Homo sapiens: one gene and its partner. The protein of the gene in region 1 purifies or fractionates together with the protein of each later gene. This does not show direct contact. Each region holds a gene or a part of one and is shown on either strand. Other genes may lie near its edges.

Evidence for each region. Proteins that work in one complex are often made in the same cells at the same time.
Region 2: the proteins of COL12A1 (region 1) and SPARC purify together in Homo sapiens (co-immunoprecipitation; one large-scale study listed by IntAct). This does not show direct contact.

The regions. Positions count from the first base shown.
Region 1 is NC_000006.12:75,119,054-75,122,553, reverse strand, and holds part of COL12A1 (collagen alpha-1(XII) chain long), read left to right. Parts: intron 1-1,112; coding exon 1,113-1,252; intron 1,253-3,080; coding exon 3,081-3,204; intron 3,205-3,367; coding exon 3,368-3,500. UniProt on the Homo sapiens protein: Type XII collagen interacts with type I collagen-containing fibrils, the COL1 domain could be associated with the surface of the fibrils, and the COL2 and NC3 domains may be localized in the perifibrillar matrix.
Region 2 is NC_000005.10:151,684,116-151,688,295, forward strand, and holds the start of SPARC (SPARC isoform 1 precursor), read right to left. Parts: upstream 2,801-4,180; 5' UTR 2,750-2,800; exon of another isoform or gene 2,267-2,749; intron 1,837-2,266; exon of another isoform or gene 1,714-1,836; intron 1-1,713.

The DNA of each region.
Region 1 (3,500 bases):
ATAATCTTGGTTTAAAAACAAGTTTTTTCTTTTTAAATAGGCTTTATTTTCTAGAGTAGTTTTAGGTTCATAGCAACATTGCAGGGATGATGCAGAGATTTTTCATCTCCCAGACAGACTGCCCTTCCCCACACATGCCCAGCCTCCTCCACTATTAACATCCCACATCTGAGTGGTACGTTTGTTACAACCGATGAACCTACATTGACACATCATCACCACCCAAAGTCCACAGTTTGCGTTAGGGTTCACTCTTGGTGTTATACTTCTATATGCTAAGTTTTTATAAACTAAAATTTTGTTAATTGTTTTTGGAATTTTTTCTTAGCCTCTAAGTCTAGATATTCCAATAAAAATCTTCTCCTTTCCTGCATATGATTCTAGTGGCTTAATTTAAATTTTACAAAGGACTTGGCCAGGTGCGGTGGCTCACGCCTGTAATCCCAGCACTTTGGGAGGCCGGGACAGGTGGATCGAGACCATCATGGCCAACATGGTTAAACCCGTCTCTGCTAAAAATAGAGAAATTAGCTGGGCGTGGTGGCACATGCCTGTAGTCCCAGCTACTCAGGAGGCTGAGGCAGGAGAATCACTTGAACCTGGGAGGTGGAGTTTGCAGTGAGCCAAGATCATCACACCACTGCACTCCAGCCTGAAGACAGAGCAAGACCCTGTCTAAAAAAAAAAAAAAAAAAGGACTTATTTGCATAAAGTCAATCTTTAATAATTACATTTCAAATCTCCAAACTTTTTATTTGATTTCTCCTCTCATTTATTGTTCAAAACTACTTGAAGAGTTCCATTAAGTAAGATTGTATCTTTGCATAATGGATCTAAACAAATGGAGTAATTCCAGAGCAGGTATTGAGGGTCCCCGCAATGCTTCTTAAATTTATTGTGCATGTGAGTCATCTTATTACTGCTGGTACTGATTCAGGAAGTCTGGGGTAGGACCCAAGATTCTGCATTTCTAACAAGCTCCCAGGCAGTGCTGTTGCTGCAGAACCACACTTTGCGTAGCAAGGTGTTATATTGCATTTTCAATTATGTGATTTCATTTAAATGAAAGAATTCATGAGATTTGGGGCTTCCTCTGCTTTCTTTTTTTGCAGTATGCAAAGGGGCCAAGGCAGATATTGTGTTCTTGACTGATGCCTCCTGGAGCATTGGGGACGATAATTTTAACAAAGTTGTAAAATTCATCTTCAATACTGTGGGAGGCTTTGATGAAATCAGTCCTGCTGGGATTCAGGTTAGTGTCATTCCGCCAGTGGCTACTCATTTGTGATGTCTTGCCTTTCCTTTGAACTTCTCTTTTTAAGTAAAAAGTCTTTTCAATATAAACTCTGTTTTGACCTTCTCCTATTTGCTATTTCTTTTATTCATGTATTTTTGGGAGGGAATTGGGTATAAATGATAAATCAATAGAAAAATAAATGTTCCCTTAGTTTTTATCTTTGGCTAGATAATATTCCTGTTGGAGAACTTAGGGGATTCTAAGGGACTCTAACTTCCTGCTTAAAACTTCCAATCATGACACATTTCTATAGAAGTTCATCCAAAGTTCTGGATATTAAATTCTTTGTGATTGTCATCCCCTGTGAAGTTAGAAGAATCAGTGATAAACAGTGACTGGAGTGGGTGTGTGGAACTTGCTGCCTCTATCATTACTTTGCAGATAATTACCTTGACCAGAAGAAGGTCCATTGTTGAGCTAAAGCGTATTTCATTTGTTTTTTTAAAAGGATAACTACCAATTATCTTGCTCTGAAATCACTCCAAATATATTTGTTATACTGAAGTACTTAGAGAAGTTTATATTTCCATGAGGGAGGGGCCTCAAAGAATAAATCATCATGTAACCCTAACACAGTTAAAAGACCCAATTAAAATTTCACCCCCTCTGGTGAGGTTCCATGATGGCTTTACCCATTCCATGCTTTTGAATTATTTTGTCTATATTGCTGCATTACAACAAATATCACTTCATATTGTCATTAATTGTGTGACTCTGTTCTGTCTAATCTTCTATCTAAATCATTGACTCCTTAAAGCAGAAGACTATCTTTTTAAAAAACAATTCTCTCCTTTTCTTTCCCATTTCTTTGGTGAATTTTCTTCTTTATTTTGGCAGTTTGATCATCATTGTGGCATTATGAAAATAAGCTATTTTGAAATAAACCACAAACAATTTCATCAACAAAACTTGTCCTCTTTTATGGAATAGTAGTATACTAAATTTCAAATCCTCAAATAATCCTCTGGACATTGATCCAACCCAAGAAGAGTAAAAATTCACCCTAGTTATATTCTTAATTTAATGTGGTTATATTCTTAATTTAACCACATTAATTCAACTAGCAAGCTTTTTTCATCCTTTTAGGAATTTGTATTTCTAAAAAAAATACTGATCATATTTTATTAACATCTATGTACCAGTTACTTTGTATACAGGATTATTAGTCTTTAAAACAATCCTAGAAGGTAAGTATAGTTATCCTCATTTTACTGATAAAAAAAATCCATTGTCACATAGCTATTAAATGCCAGAGCTAGGATTTGAACCCAGCGATTCCTGAGTACAAAGTCTGTACTTTTTCCACTAAATCCCATTTTCAATGAGGTTGTGATGAGGGATGATTATAATCACACATGTGACATTTCTGTATTGCCATAAAGAACGGATATAGTCAGTGGGAAGTAGCAGTTGGCTGAGTCAACTGTTTAACCAACATTTGGATTCGAGATGGTATGTTCTCATGTCTAATCCTGGGATCTCACCACTCCCCACCTTTATTCATCCCTTTCTATGTCCTAGAGAAAGGCACAACGTGAATATAGTATATTTTCATTATTAATGCCAATTATGACAATTTCATTGAAGATTGAAAATTAACGAATTTAATGAGACAAGTGCAGTAGATGTTGTAATATTAGCTATAAAGAGCTTACAATATTCTATCAGGTCTGAGATACTTTTTACACCCCCACCGCTTTATTCCGCAGCTAGAGAATCATTTGAAGATTGAAACATAAAATGAGATGACTTATGCTCACTGCCAAATCACATTTTCCTTCAGGTTTCATTTGTGCAATACAGCGATGAGGTCAAGTCTGAGTTCAAGCTGAACACGTACAATGACAAGGCCCTAGCCCTTGGGGCCCTCCAGAATATTAGGTACAGAGGAGGAAACACAAGAACAGGTATGTGTATATGTAGACCTTTACTCTTCAAGCATTTGTAGTGGCAGAACTGAGTGTATTATCTCATGCTGATATCCAGATTCTTATCAGTTGGGTGTGACTAATGGCATTTGGGTAGTTTTCACTGAAGTGACACTAAAATTTTCCATGCCACATTCTGTAGGCAAGGCCCTCACGTTTATCAAGGAGAAAGTCTTGACTTGGGAGAGCGGCATGAGGAAGAATGTCCCTAAGGTGTTGGTTGTGGTCACGGACGGTCGGTCCCAGGATGAGGTCAAGAAGGCGGCTTTGGTCAT
Region 2 (4,180 bases), on another chromosome or scaffold:
GACAAATCTCTACAGATGGATAAGGATTACAGCATGATGGTTATGCAACTCAAGATCCCCTAGCCCATCTTTTCTTGTTTTCTTTTCAACTGGGGGTGCAGTAAGGCGGTGTTAAAAATGCAGGCAAGCTATTCCTTTGAATAAAAGCGGTATCTGGGATTTAGGTTTATAGGACTTCAGAGTTAGAAGGGTGCCTGGGAAATCATCTAGCTTAGAAACTCTATTTAACAGTTTGGGAAACTGCAGCCTCAAGAGAGGAAGTGTCTTTCCCAATGTCAGGCACTGGGAGTTAGAACACACTTTTTTTTTTTTTTTTCACCCTTGGCCAATGCTTTTCCTACATAGAGGGCACAACAGTCTTGGGAAATACACAAGAAGTTCCCCAAATCAAAATGAAGATAAACAATATTATGATTTTAAAATTTTTCCTGTCAGTACTTCTAGTAAAGGAAAGTTCTATACAAACCCCAAGATGATGGAGCTGCCAGGAAAAAAAAAAAAAAAAAAAGCTGAGAATGATTTCACTAGGTCTTTGGATGCCTTTAATCCATCAGTTCTAAAACCCTTTGCATTATGAGGGAATGCCACAATTCGCAAAGTGCTTCCCTGTGCATTATCCCATTTCTTCTACACACTATCTACCCCCTAGAGGTGGCTGCTGTTACTGTTCTTTAACTGTAGAGGGAATGGGGCCCAGAAAGAAGTATTAGTTCAAGGTCAAATGGTACCTTCAGGGCACAGCCAGAGCTAAAACCCAGGTCTTCAAACACCCTTGCAAGGAGATTATCATGGCCCAAGGCTTCCCCGGAATCCTGAGAGATCACAAGGGCAGGGCCTAGAATTTGCTGCAGGCCTTGAATTTGGGGGTGGGGTACGTTCAGACTGATGTTCTTAGAGGGTTTCAAGGGTCCCCTCCAGCCAGCAGGCAGAGACCCTGAAAAAAAGGTTACCGTGGCAACTCGCATTCCTCGGAGAGTGAGTCAGGCAGAGAAGAGCCTTCTGGTGGGTGGGACTTGGAGAAAGTTTCAAAAGTTGATTCCTTCTCCAGGCAACCCCCTTCTTCTCCTCCCTCCCCCTCTTTGCTCTAGGCTATGTCGATGTGGCAGCTGATAGCTGAGAGTTAACTCTCTCTTTCCTCAACCACTCCCTTTTCAGAAGGCTTCATCCTCCAGCAAATACACACATTTGTTACCAGTCCTCACTCCATCCCCACGTCATGCCCTCTAATCCATTTGAGAATATCTTAAAGCTGAAAGCTGTGACCACCCATATTCATCCTCTCTCTCTCTCTCTCTCCCTCTCTCTCTCACACACACACACACACACACACACACACACACACAGTGCATACAATTTTTAGGGGCTTAGAGATGGCTTGAGGCCCATTCAAAGACCACTCCATAGACCCTGGTTAAGAAATCTTCCTTTGAATATTTTAGAGGACACAAAGCACCCCAAAGAGCCTTCAGTTTCAGCCTTCTTTCATTACAGATGGGGCACTAAATCCAGGGGAGACACTTACCTAAGATCACACATAAAATGCATGCCCGAAGCCTGTGTCCTACTTCTGCTTTGCTTCTCACTAAACCACCAGCACTTGGGGCGTATAGAAATTTAACTCTAAAGCATTACTAGAGAAAACATTTTCTCTAATGAAAAAAATGCTGTCCTTTCCTGAGGAAAATGCATGCCTCTCTGTTCCCTTTTGGGCAGACTGGGAATCCTGGAAGACATAACTCATCCCAGTGCCCCCCTTCCCTTGGAGTCCTTGGAGTCCCTTTCCCTAAGGAAGTCCACTTGACAGCCAGTTCACGGAGCCAGTGGCGGCGAAGAAAGGTAGTGGATTTGTCTGAAGAAGAACTGACACCCTGACAGGCTGGACACTAGTCTTGGGTGGATTACGGAAGGGGACCCTGGAATTCTCTCCCTCTTCCCTTCCCCCTTTCCCCCTTCTGAGAATATCTCCCCCAGCACACTCCACCTCCCATTACACCCATGTCTTGGTTGACGATATCTGATGTCTGGGTTTTCAGATCTAGATAAACTAAGGGCTACTGCCTGTGTTTACCATCCCAAGGAACTCAGGACAGGAACAACACCTAACCCAAGACTGAGGTTGTGATGGTGCCATTTCAGGCAGAATGGTGCTGAAATTTGTGTATTGGGGGGACGGAAGGTGGTGTTTGGGAGTGAGGAGAATTAGAGGAAAACAGAAGGCTTCCCAGAGGTGTGGATTAATGGTGAAGCCTCCCCCTTTGCCTTTCAGAGATCAACTGATTGTTCGTGCAAAGTCCCTTTTGGAAAACAGAACCCCTGACCGAGATCTGGAGGACAGACTCCGGTTGCTGGCCAGGTCCCTGTGGCAGCTGTGATGGGATCAGATTCCCAGGAAAGGAGGAGGCTGCCACATTTGCAAAGGGAGCAAAGAGGACAGGCAGGCAGCCTCTGAAACCAGAGACAGACACAGAGAAAAACAGAGAGTGAGAAAATGCTCCCCCGAAGACATAGTGAGATTATTTTCTGTAAACCTGTAAGGGAAGACAAAGTTACACAGTGAGTCCACCTTCTGAAAAGCAACAGGCAGACAGGACCGAGGGCCATGCTCTTAAGGGGAGCCGTGATGGAGCCGGGAGGAGAGGCGCATCCTCAGCAGAGCTTCCCTCCCTTGCACACGAGCTGACGGCGTGAACGGGGGTGTCGGGGTTGGTGCAACTATAGAAGGGAAAGGCTGGGCGGGGGTCACACATACCTCAGTGGCAGGCAGGCAGGCGGCAGGCAGAGCGCGCTCTCCGGGCAGTCTGAAGGACCGCGGGAATGTGGAGGGGTTTAGAGACAGGCAACAGGAAACCACTCAGAGCTCTGGGCTGGGTCTATCTCCCCTCCACCCCGTGGTCCCTCCTCCTCCTGTCTCCTCCTTCCCCCGGCCTCCTCCTTCTCCCATAGCCAAAGCTGTCTCTGTCTTTCATTTCTTTCCTCCTCTTTTTGCGGTGGGCTGTCCTGACCAAACGTCCCAACCCTGCCTGCCTCATCTGTTCCGGGGCTGCTGCCTAAACCGACTCACAGAGTGCCAGGGCTGGACAGGCCTGGAGGGATGACCCAGAACAGCCTCTTTCTTGTTCAGAGGGCAAGTGAGGCCTGGAGACTGCAAGGAATTACCCAATGGCCCCCAGGGGCAGAACCAGGCCCAAGTGTCTTGATCTTCTAACCAGTGAGCTTTACAGGAGTCCTCCCTAATATTAGGCAATGCTGAGAAGGGCCAAGCAATTCAAGGGGGTTGTATTTGCCACAAAGGCAAGGCCAGGACTTACCACTGTACAGACAAGACAAGCTGCTACTAGTGGTATCATCCTTGATGATTTGGAACTGGTCTTAAAAAAAAAAATCCCACTCAAACTCCACTTGTACCACTAATAGACACATAAGGGATTAGACATCTAGCTGGTGGACCTGTGCCACCAGTATTGAACAGATAAGGTAATTGATGATATTGATGATAATCATAGGAGTAACAATAGCCAAAGTTTACTGAGGATTTAATAATCTTCACAGCAACCCCTTATCTTAGGCATTGTAATTATGACCATTTTAATAATAAGGAAACATAGATGCTAAGTAACTTGCCTATGATCACCTGGCAAAAAGTGGTATGAGAGGGCTGATTCTACGTTTCAACTTGGGTCACTCCTGTTATATATGAACTGCTCAGTGCAACAGGTCTTGGTTGAATGTTTATTTTGTGCCTAACACTCTGGGAGGTATGAGAATTAATAAATACCTGGTCCTTGTCCTCAAAAAGTTTTGTGGTTTCCGGTTTTTTTGTTTGTTTGTTTTGTTTTGTTTTGAGACAGAGTCTCACTCACTCTGTCGCCCAGGCTGGAGTGCAGTGGTATGATTTCGGCTCACTGCAACCTCTGCCTCCCGGGTTCAAGCAATTATCGCGCCTCAGCCTCCAGAGTAGCTGGGATTACAGGCGCACATGCCACAACACCCAGCTAATTTATTGTATTTTTAGTAGAAATGGGGTTTCAACATGTTGCCCAGGCTGGTCTCGAACTCCTGAGCTTGGGCAATCCGAATGCCTTGGCTTCCCAAAGTGCTAGGATTACAGGCGTGAGCCACCGCACCCAGCTTAGCTTTGTGGTTTCTTAAATTCTTTTTTAATTTTTTTAGACGAGTTAAG